3 separate regions of the Homo sapiens genome follow, and regions 1 and 2 are each linked to region 3. The links come from fine-mapping of genetic effects on gene expression. A gene starts in region 3. Each other region holds a variant in brackets. All regions are shown on one strand. Distances are from middle to middle.

Region 1 (4,220 bases), 62 kb after region 3:
CCGTCCACCTTAGCCTCCCAAAGTGCTGGGATTACAGGTGTGAGCCACCGCGCCCGGCCAACACTTTAAAAATAAGCCTTAGTTCAGCTAAAAGAAGTTGGGGAAATAGGTAATTTTATTTCACTGACAAAAACGTTCATCTAGTAATCACATCTTAAACTTTGATGTTTATAAAAATCCCTGAGGGATCCTGTTAAAATGCAGATTCTGATTTCAGGTCTGAGAAGGGGTTGAGATTCTGTATTTCTCATAAGCTCCTAAGTGATGCTGATGCTGGTCCAGCAAGTCCTACGGCCAATTCTCGTAATCCTAAAAAGCACGAATGCATGGAGTGTGAGCAGCCTGCTTGGGTGAGTGCACAGGCATAGGGAGAATGGGAGTCAACTACCTCAGGCAAAGGTTGGGTAAATATAAAAATTTGGCCTATTTTACTTCACAAAGCATAATATTCTCCAGGTTAATCCATGTCTTTACAAATGGCATGATTTCCTTCTTTTTAAAGGCTAAGTAATATTACATTGTGTGGCCAGGCACGGTTGCTCACCCTTGTAATCCCAGCACTTGGGAGGCCGAGGCAGGCGGATCACCTGAGGTCAGGAGTTCAAGACCAGCCTGGCCAACATGGTGAAACCCGGTCTCTACTAAAAATACAAAAAATTAGCTGGGCTTGGTGGTGGGCACCTGTAATCCCAGCTACTCGGGAGGCTGAGGCAGGAGAATCACTGGAACCCACGAGGCGGAGGTTGCAGTGAGCCGAGATCACACTATTGCACTCCAGCCTGGTTGACAAGAGCAAAATTCCATCTCAAAAAATGAACAAATAAATTAAAAAAAAAATACTGCATTAATCTGCTAAAAGAGTTGATCTTAAGTGTTTTCATCACACACAAAAAGTAACTATGTGAAGTGAATATGTTAATTAGTTTGATCGTAGACATCATTTCACAATGTATATGTCTATCAACACATTGTGTTATACACTTTAAATTGATACAACCTTAATATGTCAAGTATGCCTCAATATAACCAGGAAAATAATTTTTTTAACTTTCGGTTTCAGTTCTGAGTGCCCACCAGGTGCTCTGAAGAGCCTGGGACCTTTCATGGTGACACCTCTTTCCACAGGCAACTCCCGTACTCCAAATATCTGCCAAGGTAACACTACTGCTTCCATGTTAGAGAAAAGTTTGTATGCTTGAATGTAATTATTGTTTTGCTTGAGTTGGTAGTTTATTCACTAAAAACAGTTTCAGGAGAACAGGACCTTCAGCAAAAATAAAAGAAAATACAATGACCAACAACTCTGGGAATGGGCTGACCAGCCTGGTAAGAACAGGGCAGATGGCATCTGCAGAAGGCCCCAACATATTGACTAACTGCCTACCTGAGACTGCACATGTTTCACAAAAATGCTTTGATCATTATTCCTCTAATTTCCCTGATTCAGAGACTCAACTCGGTGAGGTGGTCTTTGAACGCTAGTTTATTGTCTCCCCTGGGTTGCTGGCTTCTCCAATAAAGCTAACCTTCCTTTCACCAAAGCTCATCTCTTGAGTTTTTAGCTTTCAAGTGACAAGTGGCCCAAACTTGATTTTGGTTATACCAAGAACCATCTCAACAATTATAAACCCTTGTAATATGTTTTAATATGAAACAGACCCAGGTCCTCCATTATTGCTCACCTATGGTCAGAATTTTTTTGATTGCTCTTCGTGTTTATTTTACAATACAAACTTGCATGTCACCTTGGCTATTTAAAATTCATGATTGTGTTTTTAGTGAGATAGTATTAAATGTATAGATTAACTTAAGGGAAAATGATTTTTATAATAATATAAAATACCTCTATTTTAAAAACAGGAT[A/G]TGTTTCTTCATAAGTCTCCTTTTATGCCTTCTAGTAGCATTTTCCATTTTTTTCATAAAGATCTCACTCATTTCTTATTACATTTATTCTTGGGTTTTTAAAAAACTTTTTTGTTGCTATCTCCTTCTCCATCGAAAGACTCATAAATATTTATTAATATAATCTTCTTGTTCTTAAATGAATGCTTCTTTTATATTTAACTCCCTCTGGAATTTATTTTGGTGCTTTATGTGATTCCTGTAGCTAAATGGATTATTTTTGCTCAAATGGCCAAATGTAATTATTGAATAAATGATTTTTTTTCATTTTAATTGAGTGTTCCTTTTTTATGCAGTATGTTCTTATAATACCAAGGTTTATGTCTTTAGGGTGATCTATTCCTACTAAAAATTTTTTATAGTTTTCTAATTGCAGGTTCTTTATAAACAATCATATGGCTATCCATATGGAAAAATTAAACTTAGATTCATAATTCACACCTTACACAAACAATATCTTCCAGGTAGATCAAAGACCTAAATGTGAAAAACAAGACAGTGTGTACAAAAGTAAGAAATGACTTTCCAACTATGACACAAAAAGAGCAAATCATAAAAGAAAAGGCTGAAATATTTACCCAGTTATGTGAAAAATGAAAAACATCTAGGCTGGGCTGGGTGGCTCATGCCTGTAATCCCAGCACTTTGGGAGGCCGAGGCAGGCAGATCACTCGAGGCTGGGAGTTTGAGACCAGCCTAGCCAATATGGCGAAACCCTGTCTCTACTAAAAATACAAAAATTAGCTGGGCGTAGTGGTGGACACCTATAATCCCAGCTACTTGAGAGGCTGAGGCAGGAGAATCGCTTAAACCTGGGAGGTGGATGTTGCAGTGAGCTGAGATTGTGCCACTGCACTCCAGCCTGGGTGACAGAGTGAGACTCTTTCTCAAAAAATCAAAAAATTTAATTACTAAAGACATTGTTATTGGAAGGATGAAGAGAAAAACACAAACAAGAAGATATTTTCAATGTATACAATAGACAAAGGATCATCTCCATAATATACGAAGAACTCCTACAAGGCAATAAGGAAAACATATGCTTCTCAATAGAAAAATGAGCAAAGGATATGGATAGCCAGTTTATGCTGAAGGAAATTCAAAACCCAATAAACCTACAAAAAGAGATGCAACCTCATAAGTAACCAGGAAAATGTAAATTATGTCCGAAATGAGATACCATGTCATATCCACCAAAATGGCTAAAATTAAGATGGCTGACAGTACCAGGCATCTGTGTTGATGTGGAACAAAGCCAACACTCATAAAATGCTTGGTGGGAGAGTAAATCGGTCTAATCGTTTTGGAAAACAATGTGTCTTTATTGATGATGCTTGAATGCGCACATGCCCCAGGACCCAGCTACTCTATTCTTAGGTGTGCAACCTGCCCAGAGATAACCTTGTAACATGCAGGTGTGTATTTCTTCAGATTTATTTTTGTTTTTGCATTTAAAAATTATGGTTCTTGGTTGCAAACTAGAAGAGTCAACTCTGGCTAAATGTAGCAGAAAAAGAATTATATGGAAGGAATACATATTGCTCACACAACTGGCAGGAAGTTTGGGTCACACTTGAAAAATGGGCAGAACTAATAGCAAGGCGAGACCAAGTGACACGAACTAAAGACCTCTCATGGCCACACTGCTCAACGCTCAATGCTCCTTTGCATCACTCCTATAAGAGTGGAACTGCGGAGTGGGAATGTCTGATTGGCTGAGCCAATTATGTTACATCTCTCAATTGGCTGCCAAGGAATTAGGAGAGAAAATATGTGCCTCTTTTAGGCTCTCACTAAAGCAATAGAACCAGCTCCTACCTATCTTGGGATACTTCTCAAATAGAATAGTATTCAGATATGAGTAACCAAAACTACGCATGTCCACTACAATTCATATTCTTTGCTCTCTTCTCCAGACATACTCACACACACTCCATTTTCTCTCTCTCTCGCCTTCTTTCCCTCCCTCTCTGTCTCCCTCTGTCCCTCCCTCCCTCTCCTCTCTCTCTATCCCCTCTCTCTCTCTCAAACATATGTACACTTTAAACTGTAATAGGCTCATATCATATACACTGTATGGCAAATTGCATTTTATACTTAATATATCTTTGACATCTTTCCTCATTAGTTTATATACATCTATTCCATTTTTCTTAAGGATTGTACAGTATCAAATTGCACAAAAGGAATATAATTTTAAAAATTATTGGAGTGAAATTCACATAACATAAAATTAACTGTTTTAACGTGAACAATTCAGTGGCATTTAGTGCATTCACAATGCTGTGCAACCAGCACTTCCGGGTTCACGCCATTCT
Region 2 (4,256 bases), 39 kb before region 3:
GGGAAATGCAAGTCAAAACCCCAATGAGATATCATCTTACCCCAGTTAGGATGGCTATTATCAAAAAGACAAGAAATAACAAATGCTGGTGAGGATATGGAGAAAAGGGAACTCTTATACACTGTTGGTGGGAATGGAGACACCGTGGAGAAAAGCATGGAGGTTCTTCAAAAAACTAAAAATAGAACCACCATGTGACCCAGCCATCCCACTACTGGGTATTTATCCAAAGGAAAGATCATCATGTCAAAGAGATCTCTGCACTCCTGTGTTTACTGCAGGGCTATTCACAATAGCCAAGATTCCAAATCAACCTAAGTGTACATCGGTGGATGAATGGAAAAGAAATGAAAAAGAAAATGTGGTCTATATACACAACGGAATACTATGCACCCATAAAAAAGAAATGAAATCCTGTTGTTTGCGGCAAGATGGATGAGGCTGGAGGACATTATGTTAAGTGAAATAAGTCAGGCACAGAAAGATAAATACTGCATGTACTCCCTCATGTGGAATCTAAAAAAGTTAATGTCACAGAAGTAGAGTAGAATAGTGGTTCTACTAGAGGCTGGGAGGCGCCAGTGGGGGCTAGGAAAAGGTTAGGTAATGAATAAAAATTATAGCTAGATAGGAGAAATAAGCTCTAGTGTTCTATAGCAATATAGAGTGACTATTGTTAACAATAATTTATTGTATGCTTTCAATAGCTAGAGGATAGGATTTTGAATCTTCCCAACACAAAGAAATGATAAATGTTTGAGGTGACGGTTATGCCAATTACCCTGATTTGATCATTACACACTATGTACATGTATCAAAATATCACTCCGTACCCCATAAATATGTACAATTATGTGTCGATTAAAAATAATGTAAATGCTTTTTAAAGCCAAACACAATACAAAATTGCCAATCAGAGAACCTTGTAACAAATGGAGACACTGCAATGTAAGCAGAGGCCCAGTGACACAAAGCCAGGTAGATGCTGCTGTGTAAACAGATTACTCAAAATGACCAGCTAGCTGGCAAAATCTCTTACTCACAGCAGGGAATAGAGTAAGACAAGCTTGGAGCCAGGGGAAGGCAAGGCAGAGACATAAATCCAGATGACACAACTTTGGTTGGGGTATCGAGAATATTCTCATCACTGGGATGGTATCCATGTCCCAACATAGTAAGCGCACAGCAGTGAGCTCATGGTGTACAGAATGCTGGGTGAGCCTGCGCCTATGGGCCCTAACTCTGCCGTGGGTACTCCTGGACAAATCACTAGCGACTCACTGCTTCCTGGCCTCGCTGCAGCCTGTGTGAAGACCCAATGAGGTAAGAATGTGAAATTGTTGAATAAAATTGGCTAAAGCAGAACACAAATATGAGGTGATCTGTCTGGACAGGCAAGGGCACTGTGCGTCCATTGTTGTATGGACAGATCGGTTTACTTAATCCATCCTGTACTGTGAGGCATTCCAAGTTTTTATTTAAACAATGCTTGCTTATCGCAGGAACTAGATATAACCTTGGACATAACCTTTGAGCGCACAATTATTCCCTTAGGGTAAAGTTCCAGAAGTAGAAAGACAAGACTAAAGCTCTTTCTTCCCAAACTGTCCTCCAAAGAAGCCATACCAATTTACCTGATTCCCCGGACTCTGGCCCAGAATGAGTATTATCAATTTCTAAAAATCATTTAACAATCTAAGAGGTTAAGAATAGTATCTTGCTATTGCAACCAGAATTTCTCCCACTACAAATGATGCTGATTTTTTTTTTTTTTTTTTTTTTTGAGATGGAGTTTCACTCTTGTTGCCCAGGCTGGAGTGCAGTGGCACAATCTCGGCTCACCGCAACCTCCGCCTCCCGGGTTCAAGCAATTCTCCTGCCTCAGCCTCCCGAGTAGTTGGGATTACAGGCGTGAGCCACCATGCCCGGCTACTTTTGTATTTTTAGTAGGGATGGGGTTTCTCCATATTGGTCAGGCTGGTCTCAAACTCCTGACCTCAGGTGATCCGCCCGCCTCAGCCTCTCAAAGTGCTGGGATTACAGGCGTGAGCCACCGTGCCAAGCTGATGCTGAATATTTTAACCTATGCTTGTATTTCTTCTGTGAACTAATGTTCATCTCTGTGGTTCATTTCACCAAGGGTATTTATCTCCTTAATTTTCAAGAGCTGGAAAATTCGAGGATGGACATAAATCCTTCACCTCTCACATGGCATAAATATCTTTCCTCATTTGTCCTTTGCCTTTCAAATTTGCTTTTAGTTTAAATTTTTAAATATATTTAAAACATCAGCCTTTTCCTTTACAGCCTCCTGACTTTGATGTTAAACTAGCCCCCACCCAAGGACATAAATATTCTCCCATGTTGTCTTTATTAATTTATTTTTTATTTTTTATTTATTAATTTTTTTTTGAGACAGTCTCGATCTGTC[G/T]CCCAGGCTGGAGTGCAGTGGTGCAATCTCGGCCGACTGCAACATTTGCCTCCTGGGTTCAAGCGATTCTCCTGCCATAGCCTCCCAAGTAGCTGGAACTACAGGTGCGTGCCACCACACCTGGATAGTTTTTTGTACTTTTAGTAGAGATGGGGTTTCACCGTGTTAGCCAGGATGGTCTCGAACTCCTGACCTCATGATCCACCCACCTCGGCCATCTTTAAGTTATTTCATGGCTTCCTTTTCTCTAGTTACCTCTCTAGTCAACCTGAAATTTATACGTGTGAATTCATAGCAGGAGTAAAAAGTTGACTATTTAAAATAAAAAGCAACAAAGAAATCAATTAGCCCAGCCTTACTTTTGAACAATTCACTCACTCTGTAGTAATATGAAATATACCATAATTCTGAAATTATTAAAATATTGTAATACAGGCAGAAGAATATGCAATTAAATCAAACAAAATAGACCAACTATCTGTAAGTATTTATTACATGATAAAAATGATGTATTTCATATTACTAAGAGTTAATGAATTATTCAATAAGTAAGGCTGGGCTAATTGATTTTTAAAAGCTGAGCTAATTAATAATAGTTTAATTATTATTAAATAATCTTTTTGTTTTTACCAGTTTATTATTCAAGATACATTTTTAGAAACATTTTATCCATCTAAATATATCTTAATGTAATTCTGTCTTTTAAACACTTTATTTGGGCTATATAAGAAAGCTATCTGTTTTTGTATATTTGTTATATAACCCATCAATTTCCTGAACCCTTTCCTTACTGCCAATCACTTTCCAGTTCTTGGTTTTCTGGACAGACAACCAAATTATCACCTCTTTTCTTATAGCCAGTTTCTTTTAGCACTGCACCGCCTAGGTTTTACAATATAAAATAACAGTGGTGAAGGCAGTAAAAATTGTTCCTCCGATTAATAGGAAGGCCTCTGATGTCTGATGGTTAGGAATGATGACGTTAGCCAAATGCTTAAGGCAGATATTTCTAATCCTCTTAATCAGAAAGGACCCTACTTCTGGCTCCTAGTTTATTAACCTTGGGAATAAATGTTTAATTTTACTCTAGACAGGCTCCCAAGTACAGGTCTACAAATCCCAGACACCACATGAAAAAAGAATAAAGTGAAACATACCTGCTAGCCTGCTGCCCTGACCCCACCAAGTTACAGAAGAGGATTAGCACCTTGCTCTCACTGTGGAGAGAGAGGGAGAATCGCTGGCCCTCACGGGCTGCCAGGCGTGGGGAGGCCGACAGACCCAGTGGATGAGCTAGAAGGGAGAGAATGACATTTGTTCATATTCCTAAAGGAGCTGCTTTCCTGGGTCAGAGCCTTAGCTTCTCTAGTCCCTCTTTCTCTTTGAGCATCTATTAACCACCAATGGGGGGCCACTAGAGGGCTTTAGGGGAGGAGATAATGAGGTTCATGGCATTTGTGCCATCTGACGCCTGGCATACGAACATCAAGAATATGGTAGTGAATTTGCAATTGTGTTCACCCAATAGTTTTTTGTTTGTTTAAGACAGAGTCTCGCTCTGTCCCCCAGGCTGGATGGAGTACAGTGGCACAATCTTGGCTCACTGCAAACTCTACCTTCCAGGTTCAAATGATTCTCCTGTCTCAGCCTCTCCAGTAGCTGGGATTGTGGATGTGCACCACCACGCCCAGCTAATTTTTTTGTATTCTTAGTAGAGATGGGGTTTCACCATGTTGGCCAAGCTGGTCTTGAACTCCTGACCTCAAGTGATCCTCCTGCCTTGGCCTCCCAAAGTGTTGGGATTTCAGGCGTGAGCCACTGCACC
Region 3 (4,256 bases):
GGAGGAAGGTGGGGGTTGGCATCTCATGGGTCACATGGCAAACACTGCTTTCTCGGGCTGAAACTCAAGAGCGGTGATGCTTGTGGAATGAACACTGACAGGTTTCCCCCTCCCCCAAGAACAACAATCACTAGTCTGTAGGGAGCTTCAGTTCTCTGCCCAGAGCTGCGGGTTTCTTCTTCTTTTTTTTTCTTTTTTTTCTTTTTTTTTTTTTTTTTTTTGCAGGAAGCAAGCCATGTGCATCAATTATCAGGAACGCTTTAATCCAACTGGGACCCCAAACAAACACCCCGTTTTAATCCCGGGTGAAGTGATACAAACAATTTACAAAGCCTCACGACCCGGCAGCAACCCGAGTAAGTAGACCGTGATCTTGCAGACAATAAAATGCAAGCCCGTGCTCATACATTGTAGGGGATTGAATGCGCCTTAAACAAAAGGATGCTATCTCCAAAATAGCACGCTCACTGCCTTTGCTGGGCACTCAGCACGGTACCTGGCCTGTAGGTTGTCAGATTCCACTGGGCTTAGAATAAAATCCAAACTCTTTACCGTTGCCTCCTAGGTCTTACGTGATCTGGCGAAACTCATCTGCCTCCTAAGCTCCAACGCCACTGCTTTTCTTTCCCTGTCTCCAGCACTCAGCTCCTTCGGGTCTATGGCAATTGTACTTGCTGTTCCTCCTGCCTGGATTAGTCCTACAGCTTGCCCTGACTGCATCCTTCTCATCATTCAGATCTCAACGCAAGCATCACCTCCTTCCTCTGAGGCCTTGGCCTTCAACATCCCATTCCCTACCCCACATCATTCCAGACTGGAAGCTCTAGAGCTGGCATTAGAACACTGTCTGGCCCACAAGCCTTCAATACTTCAACAAATGCTTGTTGAATCCAAAAACGCTGATTACCCTTCAATCTGCCAGCTCACCCCACTCCCTCTCAAAATACCTAGGAGAATTAATTTACAAAGAAAACATAAGCAAGCGACAGCGTAACACATCGACTCAAAACAAAGCCGGTAATCCGGGGCTGAACTGGTCAACGGCATTTAAAGAAGGCCCCAAGAAAACCCTTTCCTGATCGTGCACACACTTTTCAAGAGGCGAAACCAGGGGGACAGGGCGGTCGGCGGCGCAGCGCTGCCTACCTTGAACTCCGCGGAAAGTTGGGGCGTGTATTCGCGAGTCCAGAGCGCGCGCACCAGCGCCGCCAGCTGCTCGGTGACCTCGGCGCGGCCCGGAGCCGCCCGGTAGCGCCCCAGCGCCAGGAACTCGGCCAGCAGGTCGGTGTTGCTGAGACACTGCACCACCGCGTTCATGAAACAGGTGTTGCCGTGGTTCTTCAAGCCCTGAGCGCCCGGCGGCCGCGCCCCATCGCCGGCGGGGAGCTGGAGCTGGGGCTGGGGTCCGGGCGGGCGTTCCTCCCCGGGGCTCCCGGGGGCCGCTGGAACTGGGCCCGGGGCGCAGGCGAAGCCCCCCTCACCGTCGCCATCACAGTGTCCCGGCTGGGGCCGGGGCGGTGAGTCCCCGGGGCGTGAGCGGCTGCCCAGCGCCAGCAGGAAGCGGCTGAACAGGCGGCGCAGGGAGCGGCGGCGGCGGGGCCGGGGCGCGAGCGGTCCCCCTCCTGCCGCGTCCCCGGGGCCCAGGTCCATGGCTGCCGCCGGCGCAGCTCCAGGCGCGGAGCCCCCGGGCGCGAGGCGGACGAGCGGCCAGCAGGCCCTACAGCTTCTCTAAGGCTCCTGGTGCCGGCTACCTGCGGGCCAGGTGTGCGGGGACGGGGCGGAGGCGGAGCCAAGGGCGGGGCAGCCCCGCCCCGCGCGGGAATCCGGCGGCACGACCAGCCCCCTCCAGGGCAGCGCCGGGCCACCCCTACCCCTGCCTGGTGCCGCCCCCGCTGCGCTGACTGGGAGTCTTCGTGGTCGGATTCCCCACCCTTCCTTACCTCGTAAACCGACAGACCTGGGTTTCGCCGCTGCTCCTGTTCCTCGAGCAGCCTTCAAGCAGTGGAAATTACGGAGAAATGAACATTCTGAAAGCGCCTAGTAAATGGTAAAGGCCTGGCTACTGCAGGAAGAAAAGGGCAAGGCAGGCATCTCCAGAGCACAGCCTCGGGCGTGGTGAGAGGCGCGCGCTGGGCGCTGTGTGGGGGTGGGGAGCGCTTTTGTGCACCGCTGGTTCCTCCGCAGGCTCAGGTGTGTGCGGACAGGTGTCGCCACCTCCTTCCAGACCGTCTGCCCCTTGGGGGGAGGCAGAGTCTGTGCCTGCACCCGCCAACCCGGGACCTGAACTGGGAGCCACGTGTTGCCCTGTGAAAAAAGCCCCCGAGTGGTTGTGGTTTGCTTTTTTACACCACAGATTGGGTTAGAATCATTTTCCAAAAACTTGCAAGACTTGATCACCCTTGCTTTAATCGGCAAGGAAGGGGGCTCAGAGAGGTTATCGCAACGTAGGGAGGCCGCCCGATCCGTAAGCAGGGAAACCGGAACTCGACCTGGATCTATGGACTGCCAAGTTCAGGCCCTTTCCAGCCTCAGTATTTGCTAACCAGGAAGTTTTCAGGCTCTCAGGCGCGCCCCCTACGCGGTTTCTGGTTCACTCCTTAACGCACGATCCTTGTTGAATGATTGCCCAATCAGAATTAGTTTGGCCTTGCCCCGCCCTTGATTCCCTGGGTAACCCTGGGCCCCTCCCCCACCCCTCACTTTATCCCATGCAACTGTCAGGTTTATAATTAATCAGGCAAGGTCTTGCAAAATGACTTTCTCGTCAATTTCTAGCTCAGGAAGAGATCAGCACCATGTGAGATGCAGTATTCTAACGCTCTGAAATGTTACTTGTTGTTTAATAAGTGATCATCATTTATTAAATATTCTTGATCCTGGCCGGGCGCGGTGGCTCACGCCTGTAATCCCAGCACCTTGGGAGGCCGAGACGGGCGGATCACCTGAGGTCAGGAGTTCAAGACCAGCCTGGCCAACATGGTGAAACCCCGTCTCGACTAAAAATACAAAATTAGCCAGGCGTGGTGGCGCATGCCTGTAATCCTAGCTACTCAGGAGGCTGAGGCAGGAGAATCGCTTGATTCAGTGAGCCGAGATCGCGCCATTGCACTCCAGCCGGGCGACAAGAGCTAAATTGCGACAAGAGCTAAATTCCGTCTCAAAAAACAAACAAACAAACAAAAAACTTGATCTTTCAAACCGGGTTACAGCAGTTACCTCATGCAAAAAAGCAGCCTTACTTAAAGGATAAATAACATGCTTAAAACATCAGACGGTACTGTGAATCGGAGACTTGCGTTCTGGAAAATGCCATTATTTACCCCTCTCTGGAAAAAGATACCCGGCTGGGTGATTAATACACAAGGACACAAGGTCCATTTCATCACCCTTCTGGTGGAAAGCACAGAAGAAAGATGTAATGGCCAACTCCAATAAAGCATCTCTGTAATTTCATCTTTCTTTGGTAATTGTCCTGAGATCCCCAACACCACACATTTTCTTTGAGAAAGCATGCATATTTCTCTCTACCCTGTCAGGAATTCTGCCGATGCTTTAGTACATTAGTCACTTAATTCTCACAATAACCTTTTGAGCAGGAACTTACTCTTGCTTGACAAAAGAGAAAATTGTGGCTCAGAGAATTTTTAAGAAGCCTGCCCAAGATCTGGATTTAAATCTGAGTCTAGTCCCATATAGCTTGACCAATGAAATGGCAATTAAGAAGGAAATTCACCTCACCTTATTTTTAGAGGATAATAGCAATGCTGTCTGTGCACAGATCATGAGGAAGGTCTGTGGGTTTTGCAGAGTTGCAGAAAACAAATTATAACAGAAAACCAACAACTAAGAATTTATTCAAAATGTTAAAAGTTCTAATTAGAGTCTGCACAAATTATTCTTGAACATACTTCAATTTTAATATGCAATTTAAGAATATAAAATGCATTCTATAAAGAAAAAGAGAAAAATTGACTCAAGAACAAAAACAGAGCTGTGAGAAATGAAGACTAGTGTTGGAGTTATCTAAACTCAGTCTTCAACAGGACTGCGTGCAACGCCAAGGCTCAGAGACATCTCATCAGCTTCAGGAGGTATATGGGTACTTCCATCGCAAAATGGCTCCATCGGCACTTACACTAACAATATATTGATTTCCTGGACTTATGCGGATGCGTGTGATGTTGCCACTGTGTCCCACCCCAACGTGAGTCACTTCACCCTCATTATAATCCCAAACTTTGACCAGATGGTCATTT

Alleles and levels. Alleles are on the strand shown, and positions count from the first base shown. SD is a standard deviation of normalised expression in the study named.
For the expression in NK cells of the gene that starts at base 1,766 in region 3, G is the high allele of the variant in region 1 and A is the other (large effect, 1.0 SD a copy in Schmiedel 2018).
As copies of T replace G in region 2, the expression in liver of the gene that starts at base 1,766 in region 3 goes up (large effect, 0.86 SD a copy in GTEx).

What was found. PIP is the estimated chance that this variant, and not a neighbour inherited with it, causes the effect. A credible set is the group of variants that fine-mapping cannot tell apart.
Region 1: its variant is the best candidate, but not a certain one, in a credible set for the expression of USP43 in NK cells (Schmiedel 2018, PIP 0.61).
Region 2: its variant is the best candidate, but not a certain one, in a credible set for the expression of USP43 in liver (GTEx, PIP 0.54).

Annotation. Positions count from the first base shown.
Region 1 is chr17:9,581,226-9,585,445 of GRCh38, reverse strand. The region is part of intron 1 of CFAP52 (cilia and flagella associated protein 52); the gene reads right to left. Among named protein-coding and RNA genes, the nearest start is that of CFAP52, 6.7 kb to the right of the region's middle. The variant A/G (reference allele first, on the strand shown) is at 1,864.
Region 2 is chr17:9,682,291-9,686,546 of GRCh38, reverse strand. It overlaps USP43 (ubiquitin specific peptidase 43), which reads right to left. Exons shown (of 15, transcript NM_153210.5): 7 at 3,589-3,724. Among named protein-coding and RNA genes, the nearest start is that of USP43, 39 kb to the right of the region's middle. The variant G/T (reference allele first, on the strand shown) is at 2,432.
Region 3 is chr17:9,643,027-9,647,282 of GRCh38, reverse strand. USP43 (ubiquitin specific peptidase 43) reads right to left here and starts at 1,766. Exons shown (of 15, transcript NM_153210.5): 1 at 1,147-1,766. The coding sequence starts at 1,650. CFAP52 (cilia and flagella associated protein 52) reads right to left here. Exons shown (of 14, transcript NM_145054.5): 14 at 3,836-4,256. The coding sequence ends at 4,085. LOC124903924 (a long non-coding RNA gene) reads left to right here and starts at 1,856. Exons shown (of 2, transcript XR_007065615.1): 1 at 1,856-2,047; 2 at 2,776-3,453. LOC107985011 (a long non-coding RNA gene) reads left to right here. Exons shown (of 3, transcript XR_001752790.2): 2 at 226-356; 3 at 566-1,178. RefSeq lists enhancers at 1-188, 878-1,525 and a silencer at 1,834-1,893.